Regions from separate parts of the Homo sapiens genome. Here region 1 is linked to region 2. The links come from fine-mapping of genetic effects on gene expression. Tissue or cell type: neutrophils. Region 2 holds a variant in brackets; the other region holds the start of a gene. All regions are shown on one strand. Distances are between the middles of the regions.

The links. PIP is the estimated chance that this variant, and not a neighbour inherited with it, causes the effect. A credible set is the group of variants that fine-mapping cannot tell apart.
Region 1: TMEM150B starts here. The variant in region 2 is the best candidate, but not a certain one, in a credible set for the expression of TMEM150B in neutrophils (BLUEPRINT, PIP 0.66).

The regions. Positions count from the first base shown.
Region 1 is chr19:55,322,548-55,328,444 of GRCh38, reverse strand. TMEM150B (transmembrane protein 150B) reads left to right here and starts at 3,104. Exons shown (of 8, transcript NM_001282011.2): 1 at 3,104-3,173; 2 at 5,702-5,797.
Region 2 is chr19:55,240,855-55,247,507 of GRCh38, reverse strand. It overlaps PPP6R1 (protein phosphatase 6 regulatory subunit 1), which reads left to right. Exons shown (of 24, transcript NM_014931.4): 2 at 399-631; 3 at 1,830-2,016; 4 at 2,106-2,243; 5 at 2,323-2,388; 6 at 5,020-5,132; 7 at 5,229-5,342; 8 at 5,869-6,031; 9 at 6,117-6,269; 10 at 6,429-6,563. The coding sequence starts at 405. MIR6803 (microRNA 6803) reads left to right here and starts at 2,258; the gene lies at 2,258-2,322. The variant T/C (reference allele first, on the strand shown) is at 4,266.

The sequences.
Region 1 (5,897 bases), 81 kb before region 2:
TGTGAATAGCCACTGAACTCTGGCCTCAGCAACAAAGCCAGATCTCATCCCTAAAAAAGATTGTAATGTAATTTTAAAAAGACCGATAATAGCAGGCACTGTTGCCGGTGTGGAGAGATTGAAACCCTCATGCACTGCTGTCAGGAATGTAAAATGGTGTAAATCGTGTACACATGGCGGAAAGTAGTTTAGCAGTTCCTAAAAATGTTACTATACAACCCAGTAATTCTACTTCTAGGTAGAATGGTGGCAGGTGCCTGTAACCCCAGCTACTCGGGAGGCTGAGGCAGGAGAATTGCTAGAACCCGGGAGGCAGAGGTTGTAGTGAGCCGAGATCGCGCCACTGCACTCCAGCCTGGGCAACAAGAGCAAAAGTCCATCTCAAAAAAAAAAAAAAAAAAGAACATATGAGCAAATGGCTGGCCGGATAGGCAGGTGGGTGGATGAGTGGAGAAATAACTAGCTGGAGGAATGCACAAAGGCATGAACATATGCACAGATAAATGGATGTTTCAGGAGAAGGTTGGATGGGTGAAGATAAGGAGGGATATTCAAGGGCATTGCATGGCACATAGGAAGGAACCAAACTTTACAGCCAGACAGACCCAAGCTGCTCCACTCGGTAGCTGAGTGACATTGGGCAAGTACGGTAGCCAGGTGGCTCACCCTTCCTGAAAGAACTTGATTAGCAGGGAGGACTTCAGCTGGTCTCCAGCCTCCAGCAGTAGCACCTTCAGCAGTGTTTGATTTGGATTGCTATTACATTCTTTTTATGCAGCCTTGACCGATGACTAAGCATGGGGTGGGGAGCAGAGCCTGGCCGTTTCTGCCCAATGTGGACACCTCTAAAGTCAATGTGCTAAAGTGTTTATTTATTTATTTATTAAATTTAACTTTTTGGCCAGGCGCGGTGGCTCTCACCTGTAATCCCAACACTTTGGGAGGCCGAGGCGGGCGGATCACGAGGTCAGGAGATCAAGACCATCCTGAATAACACAGTGGAACCTCATCTCTACTAAACATACAAAAAAAAAAAAAAAAAAATTAGCCGGGCGTGGTGGCGGGCGCCTTTAGTCCCAGCTACTCGGGAGGCTGAGGCAGGAGAATCCTTTGAACCCGGGAGGCGGAGCTTGCAGTGAGCCGAGATCGCGTCACTGCACTCCAGCCTGGGCCAAAGAGCGAGACTCCGTCTCAAAAAAAAAAAAAAAAAGTTAAATTTAATTTTTAAATTATTTATTTATTTATTTATTTATGTATTTATTTATTTATTTTTTGGGACGGAGTCTCGCTCTGTCGCCCAGGCTGGAGTGCGGCGACGCGATCTCGGCTCACTGCAACTGCCGCCTCCCGGGTTCCCGCCGTTCTCCTGCCTCAACCTCCCGGGTAGCTGGGACCACAGGCGCCCGCCACCACGCCCGGCTAATTTTTTTGTATTTTTAGTAGAGATGGGGTTTCACCATGTTAGCCAGGATGGTGTTGATCTCCTGACCTCGTGATCCGCCCGCCTCGGCCTCCCAAAGTGCTGGGATGACAGGCGTGAGCCACGGCGCCCGGCCCACTCTAAGCATTTTAAAGTATAATTCGGTGTCGTCTAGCACAGTCCCAATGTTGTGCAACCTTCGTCTCTATCTAGTTCCAAAACAGTTTCATAACCCCCATAAGGAAACTCCAAATAAGCAATCATTTCCCATCCTCCCCTCTTCCCACCCCTTGCAACCACTGACTTGCTTTCGGTCTCCATGGACTTGCGTATGGGTGATCTTTGCACCACATTTCCCAGCTGACCTGACCGGGGTTCTCAGAACTGCACATGGTCTGTGATTCTTCCACTCTCCCCATCTCCTTTCTCCAGTGTCAGACCCAGACCCACTCACGTTGCAGTCTGAAGTCTCTCCCAGCCACTCCTGGTCTTTCTCCTCCTTTTTCTTTTTTTCTTTTTTTTTTTGTATTTTTAGTAGAGACGGGGTTTCACCATATTGGCCAGGCTGGTCTTGAACTCCTGACCTCGTGATCCGCCTGCCTTGGCCTCCCAAAGTGCTGGGATTACAGGCTTAAGCCACCGCGCCTGGCCTTTCTCCTCCTTTATCCTTCAGCAACCTCATCCCCAGTCAATCTCTTGCTTTTCTTTTCTTTCTTTCTTTTTTGTTTTTTTGAGAGGGAGTTTCGCTCTTGTCGTCCGGGCTGGAGTGTAGTGGCACAATCTCGACTCACTGCAACCTCCACTTCCTGGATTCAAGCGATTCTCCGGCCTCAGCCTCTTGAGTAGCTGGGATTACAGGCGCCCGCCACCATGCCCAGCTAATTTTTGTATTTTTAGTAGAAACGGGGTTTCGCCATATTGGCCAGGCTGGTCTCGAACTCATGACCTCAGGTGATCCACCCGCCTCAGCCTCCCAAAATGCTGGGATTACAGGCGTGAGCCACCGGGCCCGGTCAGACAGGCATTCTTTTAGGGTCTTATGTGGATAACCCCAATAAACCCTCACAATTGCACGAGGGCAGACCATCATGATCCCTGTTTTGCAGACAAGAAAACAGAGGTCCGAGACCCATCTATCTCTAGAGGTGTACATCCCCTCCCTGGGGAAGGTTCTGAGACCTCTGTGTTCCTAGACGTCTACATCCCCTCTCTGGGGAAACTTCCAGGCAGGGGACATAGACATCTAGGGATATAAAAATAAAAATAGGCCGGCCGCGGTGGCTCACGCCTGTAATCCTAGCACTTGGGAGGCCGAGGCGGGTGGAACACCGGATGTCAGGAGTTTGGGACTAGCCTGACCGACATGGAGAAACCCTGTTTCTACTAAAAAAATACAAAATTAGCCGGGTGTGGTGGTGCATGACTGTAATTCCAGCTACTTGGGAGGCTGAGCAGGAGAATCGCTTGAACCCGGGGGCAGAGGTTGCGGTCAGCTGAGATCGCGCCATTGCACTCCAGCCTGGGCAACAAGAGCGAAACTCCGTCTCAAAAATAAAAAATAAAATAAAAAAATAAAAATAAAAATAAAAACCAGTCCCCACCACCAACCACAAGCGGTTTCCTCAATATGAAAGTGCAACGTCATCTTTCTCAGAGGAAAAGCACAGCCTCTTCCCCTCGGCTGAGCCAGGCCAGCAGCCCTAGCTTCTGGAAGGATCCTTCAGGCTCCAGACACCCAACCTACCCGTGGCCGGTGAGTGGGGCCTAATTCCCAACTTGAAAGTAGCTCGGCAGGCTGGAGCCCTGTCCCCTGTCCTCCCAGGGAGGGTCCAAGCAGGTCACATAAGCACCGTGGGGACACCAGTGAGCCAAACTCATCTTTGTGCCAGGACACCGAGTTGGGTATGGAGGCTCAGAGCGGGGACAAGTCTTCCTTAGGATCACCTGGGCTTTCTCGTCTTTATTATTATTATGTTTTTGGAAGAGAAGTGGGAATCAGCCAGGTGGCAAACACAGGACAGGGCAGGGCAGGAGATCAGTGTTGAGGGCCGACGGAGGAGCAGGTAGCATGGACCCCTCCCTCCCCTGGGCTCCCTCATAGCTTTGTGTGACTTCCTTTAGAGGAGCTGTCACCTGCTGATCATCTGTGTTGCCCACAGACAGGGATTCCCCTGAGGGCAGGGGGTGGCTCAGATTCATGTCTGGGCAAACGGAGACCTCCGGAAAAAGAAGCGAAAGGAGGAAGACGAGACCCAGAGGAGAGGCATTTGGCAGCAGAAGGGGTGAGGAGGACTTGGAGAGCTTTGCCCTCTATCAGCCCCACTGGGACAGGATTTATTTTTTATTTTATTTATTTATTTTATTTTATTTATTTTTGGAGACGGAGTCTCACTCTGTCGCCCAGGCTGGAATGCAGTGGTGCGATCTCGGCTCACTGCAACCTCCGCCTCCTGGGTTCAAGCGATTCTCCTGCCTCAGCCTCCCGAGTAGCTGGGATTACAGGTGCCTGCCACCACACCCGGCTAATTTTTGTATTTTTAGTAGAGACGGGGTTTCACTATGTTGGCCAGGCTGGTCTCAAACTCCTGATCTCATGATCTGCCCACCTCGGCCTCCCAAAGTGCTGGGATTGCAGGCGTGAGCCACCATGCCCGGCCACCCAGCTAATTTTTTTTTGTATTTTTAGTAGAGACAGGTTTTCACCATGTTGGCCAGGCTGGTCTCGATCTCCTGACCTCAGGTGATCCACCTGCCTCAGCCTCCCAAAGTGCTGGGACTACAGGCGTCAGCCACCTTGCCCAGCCGACCCTGGCTGTTTAAAAAATAAAAATAAAAAATAAAGGAATGAAACACTAATACATGCCACAACATGGATGAATCTCAAAAACATTACACTGAGCATAAAATACACCAGACGGGTTGGGCGCGATGGCTTCCGCCTGTAATCCCAGCACTTTGGGAGGCTGAGGCAGGGGGATCACTTGAGGTCAGCATTTTGAGGCCAGCCTGGCCAACATGGTGAAACTCTGTCTTTATCAAAAAATGCAAAAATTAGCCAGGCATAGTGGCGGGCACCTGTAATCCCAGCTACTTGGGAGGCTGAGGCATGAGAATCACTTGAACCCAGGAGGTGGAGGTCCCAGTGAGCCAAGATTGTGCCACTGCACTCCAGCCTGGGCAACAGAGGGAGACTCTGTTTCAGAAAAAAAAAAAAAAAAAAAAGGTTGGGCGCAGTGTCTCACGCCTGTAATCCCAGCACTTTGGGAGCCTGAGGCGGGTGGATCACCTGAGGTTGGGAGTTCGAGACCAGCCTGGCCAACATGGTGAAACCCCATCTCTACTAAAAATACAAAAATTAGCCAGGCATGGTGGCACCGGCCTGTAATCCCAGCTCCTCAGGAGGCTGAGGCAGGAGAATCACTTGAACCCGGGAAGCAGAGGTTGCAGTGAGCCGAAATTGCGCCACTGCACTCCAATCTGGGTGACAGAGGGAGACTCTGTCTCAAAAAAAAAAAAAGAAAGAGGCGATGGTTGCATAACATTGGGAGTGCACTAATGTCGCTGAGTCGCACATTTTTTTTTTCTTTTTTCTGAGACAGAGTTTTGCTCTTGTCACCCAGGCTGGAGTCCAATGGCATGATCTGGACTGACTGCAACTTCTGCTTCCCAGGTTCAAGGGATTCTCCTGCCTCAGCCTCCGGAGTAGCTGGGATTACAGGCTCCCGCCACCACACCCAGCTAATTTTTGCATTTTTAGTAGAGATGGGGTTTCACCATGTTGGCCAGGCTAGTCTCAAACACCTGACTCCAGATGATCTGCCCACCTTGGTCTCCCAAACTGCTGGGATTACAGGCGTGAGCCGCCGTGCCTGGCCGAGTCGTACACTTTAAAATGGCTAATGTTATGTGGATTTTATGTCCATTAAAAGACACGAGGTGGCATAGTGAGAGAGGAGGTGGCTGGGACTTCTGTGTCTAAGGGAAGAGTTCTGGGGGCCTGGACTCCTGCATTTTGGGGAAGGAGGAAGGAGTTGGAGCTTGGACTCCTGGGTCCCCAAGGGTGGAGGCTCCGATCTGAGTCCAGGGGAGGATAGGGCTGAGAGTTTGGATGTTGAATACACAAAGCTGGAGGAAGGAAATTAGGGTCCCCCAAAGCTACGGTGCTGCCTGTGAGGTTCTAAGGAGACAGGACACGGTGGTTTGGGGACAGAGAGCCGTTAGGAAGTGGCAGTCAGACCAAAGGACCCAGGCAGTCCTGCAGCCTGGACTTTGCCTCTGCAGGATGTCTGCCTGAGCCCCACCCCGAATGCCAGCCCTTCTTCCCTGAGCTCACCCAGCCCCAGCTCCAGGACTGAGAGCCCCAGGAAGCTTGGAGAGGTGAGCATCCTGGGGAGGCCCTGGAGGCTGGGAGGTGCACGGAGGGGCTGGGAGGGCAGGGAGAAACTCCCCAAGCAGGAGAATGTGTGAGCTAGGACTG
Region 2 (6,653 bases):
CAGGGCCCGAGGCCCCTCAGTGCACAGGGTCCAGCCTCTTCTCGCAGGCCCTGCACATGGTCCACACCTGGGGACTTCACCAGGCCTGAGGCCTCAGGTGTGAAATGACCCCCTGGACCTCAGGCGAGGCGGCCGGGAGGCTGGAGATGGGGGAAGAGGGGCAGGCTCGAGGGCAACTGCAGGAGCCTGGTGCTCACTGGGAGCCTTAAGCCTGAGTGATGGAGGCAGTGAGCCTGCGGGCAGTCCCGGGGCGGGGCCGGGCTCAGCATGAGGCAGAGGGCTGGGACTTGGGGAGAGGCTGTGCCCAAGGTGGGCACTCAGCCCCTGTGGTCAGTGCCTCGTCCAGTGGGGACTCCCTGGGGCGTCTGACGCGGCGCTGGTTGTGTCTATGCCTGCAGGGCGCCATGTTTTGGAAGTTTGACCTGCACACAAGCTCGCACCTGGACACGCTGCTGGAGCGGGAGGACCTGAGCCTGCCCGAGCTGCTGGACGAGGAAGACGTGCTGCAGGAGTGCAAGGTCGTCAACCGCAAGCTGCTGGACTTCCTGCTGCAGCCACCCCACCTGCAAGCAATGGTGGCCTGGGTCACCCAGGAGCCGCCAGATAGCGGTGAGGAGCGGCTGCGCTACAAGTGAGTTCCCCAGCTCCTGGCCAGCCCGTCCCTATCAGCATCACACATACCTTCACTACGCAAGCCTCACAGCTACCCTGAAATGCGTCAGTGTCAGTAAACTCCAGTTTGGGGATGAGGAAGACGAGGCTGGGAGCAGCCAGGCTCCTGCACAAGGCCTCACAGCTCACCGGGTGCAGACCAAGCCTGTGCTCTGGAGGGCAGTGGCACAGTCACGGGTCACGGCAGCCACAAATTCACGGGCCCAGGTGATCCTCCCGCCTCAGTTGCCCGAGTAGCTGGGACCACAGGCATGTGACGACATGCCCGGCTGGTTTTTCTCTTTATTCGCCGCCTTTTATTTTATTTACTTTTTATTAAACTTTTTTTGTATGTTTGTGAAACACTTGTCTGCTATTGAAGACACTTTACTTATTTTTTAATCCAAGCGATGCTGAAAAGACACTTTTTTTTTTTTTTTTGAGACTCACTTTATCACCAGGTTGGAGTGCAGAGGCATGATCGGCTCACTGCAACCTCCTCCTCCCAAGTTCAAGTGATTCTCCTGCCTCACCCTCCTAAGTAGCTGGGACTATAAGCCAGCACGCCCAGCTAATTTTTGTATTTTTGGTAGAGACAGGGTTTCGCCATGTTGCCCAGGCTGGTCTTGAACTTCTGACCTCAAGTGATATGCCTGCCTCAGCCTCCCAAGGGGTACCTCCCCACAGTCCTGGAGCAGACTGTGGCCCCTCAGGGCCTTGAGTGGCACGCTGGTGGGGCAGCTCTTGTCTTGGAGCCGTCAGGCACCGTGTGAAAGTTTGGAGGAGGGAGGCAGGAGGTGAGGTTGGAAGTTGAGCAAGGTTCCAGGAGTCAGCCGGAGCTGGGGCAGCATACGGGGTTGCAAGTGAAGCCGCTGAGAGGCAAAAGGGATGAGTGTTAGCTGCTGGGGGATTGGGAAGCGCAGGAGCTTCAGGACCAGCTTGTCTTGGGGGTGGTAAGGAGCCTAGGATGGGATGGTTGGGTGTTAGCAGGGTGGAGGAGGCCTGGTGTGGGCCCTTGTTTCTGCGTCACCCTGTCCTCTGCCCTTTCCCCTTCCTGGACAGGGGTCTCTGCAGTTCCCAGAAACCCAGTGCCCGGTGCAGAGAAGAGGGTGGAGCCTTGCCGCCCCCTGCCCCCGGCCTCCGACCCGAGCCCCCACCCGCCTGTGCTTGCCTCCCAGGTACCCCAGTGTGGCCTGCGAGATTCTGACCTCAGATGTGCCCCAGATCAATGATGCCCTGGGTGCTGATGAGTCCCTTCTGAACCGGCTCTACGGCTTCCTGCAGAGCACCGGCAGCCTCAACCCACTGCTGGCCAGCTTCTTCAGCAAGGTCATGGGCATCCTCATCAACCGCAAGACAGACCAGGTGCCCTGGCCCCCACCCTGGCGCCACCGTGGGTTGAGGGGTGGTGGCTGGGCCAGGCCCTGTGCATGACGCAGCCCGTGTGCCCCCAGCTCGTGTCCTTTCTTCGGAAGAAGGATGACTTCGTGGACCTGCTGCTGCAGCACATTGGCACCTCGGCCATCATGGACCTCCTGCTGCGCCTGCTCACCTGTGTGGAGCGGCCTCAGCTGAGGCAGGATGTTGTCAATGTGAGCAGGGCCGGCTCCTCTGGGGGTGGGGGGCTGGGCGTGGTGGACAGCGATGCATCCCTCGCCTTCTCACCCTCAGTGGCTCAACGAGGAGAAGATCGTCCAGCGGCTGATTGAGCAGATCCACCCGTCGAAGGATGAGAATGTGAGTGCTGCCGATGCCCCTGCGGATTCCCCTTAGAGTTCCTTCCCCATGCCCACTTCCCCACTTTTAAAAGAGGAATTGGGGCTGGACGCAGTGGCTCACGCCTGTAATTCCAGCACTTTGGGAGGGCGAGGTGGGAGGATTACTTGAGCCCATGAGTTTGAGACCAGCTTGGGCAACATAGTAACACCCCGTCTCTACGTAAAAACTTAGCTGAGTGTGGTGTTGCACACCTGTAGTCCCAGCTACTTGGGAAGCTCAGGTAGGAGGATTGCTTGAGCCGGGAGGTCAAGGCTATAGTGAGTCATGATCACACCACTGCACTCCAGCCTGGGTGACACAGTGAGACCCTGTCTCAAAAAAAAAAAAAGAAAGAAAAGAAATTGGTGAGAAAAGAGAGCATTGAGAACCAGGTGTATCCATGCCCTTTGAGAAAAGGAAAGAAACTTGACTCAAGTGATTCTCCCACTGTGGCCTCCGAAAGTGCTGGAAAGGTTTTTTTCATGACCCAGGAACTTGGCACATAATGCCTTGCAGGGAGGGGCCCTCCTCATCGCCTGTCCAAGCGCTGGCCCCACATCCGTCCCTGCCCACCCTGGCCTGTGCTATTGCTGGGCCTGGCAGCTTTTTCCCTGTCTCCTGCCTGATTGAACCCCTTGCTGTCCTTCTAAGTGTCCGTCCAGCAGCCTTGCTTTCAAGCGCCCTCACATCCTCCCCTTTAGCTCTGGGGGACCCCATGTCCATGTGTTTCTCCAGCTTGGGTCTCCATCTCTGTCCTGGTGCCCAGCACAGGGCCTAGTGTAGAGTGGGTGTTTGTCAAGAGCCTCAGATATCCGAGGCCACTGGGAGCAACATGTCCTTCCCAATGCCAACTTCTGCCTCAGAGGCGCACAGGCTTACAGAGCAGAGATGGCTCTGGGCTCACCCAGGCTGGGGCCTGTCCCTGTGAGGACCCTGAGGCATGGCCCAGGGCCACACTGCCAAGCCCTGGCAGCTGCCCGTTGGGTAGACTCAGCTCTGCTTATGCTTCTCTCTTTTCTCTCTTTTGTAGCAGCTTTACTGAGATGTAAATTGCACAGCATACCACTCACCCACCGAAGCTTACGATTCAGCGCTTTTAGGGTATTCAAAGCGTTTATCATCTTGTTGAATTTAGATTATTTTTTATCACTCCAAAAAACAAGTCCTGCCTGTAATCCCAGCGCTTTGGCAGGTGAGGCTGGAGGATTGCTTGAGCCCAGGAGTTTGAGACTAGCCTGGGCAACATAGCAAGACGTTGTCGCTACAAAAAATTGAAAAATTAGCTGGCATTGGTGGTGCACACCTGTAATCCTAGCTACTCAAGAGTCTGAGACGGGAGGATCTCTTGGGCCCAGGAGTTCAGGGCTGCAGTGAGCTGTGATGGCACCACTGCGCTCAAGCCTGGGGTGATGTAGAGGCCGTGTCTTTTTTTTGAGACAGTGTCTTGCTCTGTTGCCCAGGCTGGAGTGCAGTGGCGTGATCTTGCCTCACTGTAGCCTTGACCCCCCTGGGCTCAAGCAATCCTCCTGCCTCTGCCTCATGAACAGCTGGAACTAGAGATGCACACCACCATTCTTGGCTAATTTTTTTGTATTTGTAGAGATAGAGTTTTGCTATGTTGCCCCGACTGGTCTCAAACTCCTGGGCTCAAGTGATCCTGCCACCTTGGCCTTTCTTTTTTTTTTTTTTTTTTTGAGATGGAGTCTCGCTCTGTCTAGAGTGCAGTGGCACGATCTCGGCTCACTGCAGCCTCCACCTCCCAGGTTCAAGCGATTCTCCTGCCTCAGCCTCCCGAGTAGCTGGGACTACAGGCGCCTACCACTGCGCCTGGCTAATTTTTTTATTTTTAGTAGAGA[T/C]GGGGTTTCACCATGTTGGCCAGGCTGGTCTCAAACTCCTGACCTCGTGATCCACCTGCCTCGGCCTCCCAAAGTGCTGGGATTACAGGCGTGAGCCACCGCGCCCGGCCCCACCTCGGCCTTTCAGACTGCTGGGATTATAGGCATGTGCCATCACACCCAGCCGAGACCCTTTCTCCAGAAAAAATAAAAAAGATGCCCTGTGTTCATTAGCAGCTCCTCCTGATCTTCCCCTTTCTCTTCTTAGCCCCCGGCAACCACCAGACTATTCTGTCTCTGTGGATTTGTCTTTGGACATTTCATATAATTGGAATCATGTACTACGTGATCTGTGTGTGGTTTCTTTCTCTAGCATGATGTTTTTGTGGCTCATTCATGTGGTTGCATGTATCAGTTTCACTCCTTTTCCTGGCTGATTAGCACTCTCCTGTGTGGATAGACCAGCTTGGGCATATTCACTCATCAGTCAGAGCCTTCTGGGTCATTGTGGGCGGTGCTGCCAGCCCTGTATGCGGTCATGAGGGCCTTGTGTGGATGCCTCCTGTCCTGGGGAGCCTTCCGGGCTTCCTGTTCTCTCCACCATCTTCCCTCCAGCAGTTGGTGCCTCTGTGCCCTCCTCCTTCGTAACACGTGTCCCTGTGTCTGGGTGACCATTTTTCCCTGGATGGTCAGCTCATGGGAGGGGCTCCCAGCACCAGGCTGCAGAGGGCCCGGTGGCCCGACCAGGATCCTCACCTGTCTCTCCCCGTTCCAGCAACATTCCAACGCATCCCAGTCCCTGTGTGACATCATCCGCCTGAGCCGGGAGCAGATGATCCAAGTCCAGGACAGCCCAGAGCCTGACCAACTGCTGGCCACCCTGGAGAAGTGGGTGTGCGGGCAAGGCTAAGGCTGGGGGGAGCTGACTTGGGGAAGCCCTGGGCCCCTGGCCCCTCACCCTGACCCCTGCCCCTGCCCCCGCAGGCAGGAGACGATTGAGCAGCTCTTAAGCAACATGTTCGAGGGGGAGCAGAGCCAGTCTGTCATCGTCAGTGGGATCCAGGTGCTGCTGACCCTGCTGGAGCCCAGGAGGCCGAGGTGAGGGATACGGGCCACAGACCATGCATGCTGCCCATCCCCAGGGGCTCTCCGGCCCCTCAGAGGCGGGTCTCGGTGTCCACCAAGAGAAATCCCCGCCCGTGGCACCTTGCTCTGTGGCTGCCTGTGCTCCCTGCACAGTGGACAGTACGGGGCCGAGGGAGGAATCTTCTTGTCTGCTTTGACAAGTGAGGGCACTGAGGCTGAGGCCACTGCTGCAGCTTGTGTTGGGAGGGACCCCAGGCCCCCGTGCCCCTGCCTTACCACACAGGCCGCTAGCCTGTTGGGTTTGCCTTCCCGCCTCCACCCCTCACCCGTGCTCTCACAGTGGACTGCCAATGCTGCCGCCTGGCGGGCTCCCCACCCCAGCCAGGTGTTGTCTGAAGGGCCTCAGAAGAGAGCGGCGCTGGGGGCATGTGGCTCCTCGTTTTCCTCCAGACCCTGCAGACGTGGTCCTTGTGCCTACTCCTGTGTGGGCGCACAGGCCATCTAGGCTCACTCCGCCTTCGACCCTGCCCTGCTGCAGGTCCGAGTCCGTGACCGTGAACAGCTTCTTCAGCAGTGTGGATGGGCAGCTGGAGCTCCTGGCCCAGGGGGCCCTGGAAAGCACTGTGTCCAGTGTGGGCGCCTTGCACGCCCTACGCCCGCGGCTCAGCTGCTTCCACCAGCTCCTGCTGGAGCCTCCCAAGGTCAGGGGTGTGGGTTCTGGTCCTCGGGGAGGCGGGGGAAGCAGGAAGGGCAGCCCTTGGGAATCAGGCCTCCCTGTGTCTGCAGCTGGAGCCGCTACAGATGACATGGGGCATGCTGGCTCCGCCTCTGGGCAACACGCGGCTGCACGTGGTCAAGCTCCTGGCCAGTGCCCTGAGCGCCAATGATGCAGCCCTGACGCACGAGCTCCTGGCACTGGACGTGCCCAACACCATGCTGGTGCGGGGACTGGACCGGGCTGGGGGTTCAGGGGCTGGGGCGGGGACTGGACTGGGCTGAGGGTTCGGGGGCTGGGGTGGGGGCTCGGCTGGGGGCTCAGGGGTTGGGGGCTCGGCTGGGGCGGGGCCTCTCTGGTACCAATCCTGTGTCCTCCCATAGGACCTCTTCTTCCATTATGTCTTCAACAACTTCTTGCATGCCCAAGTAGAGGGATGCGTGAGCACCATGCTGAGCTTGGGGCCACCTCCTGACAGCAGCCCTGAGACGCCCATCCAAAACCCTGTTGTGAAACATGTGAGCTGGGACTCCCTGGTCCCCCTCCTTCTGGGCCCATCCCCTGTGGGCGCACCCTCTCCAGAGGCCTACCCCTCACTCCTTCCTCCC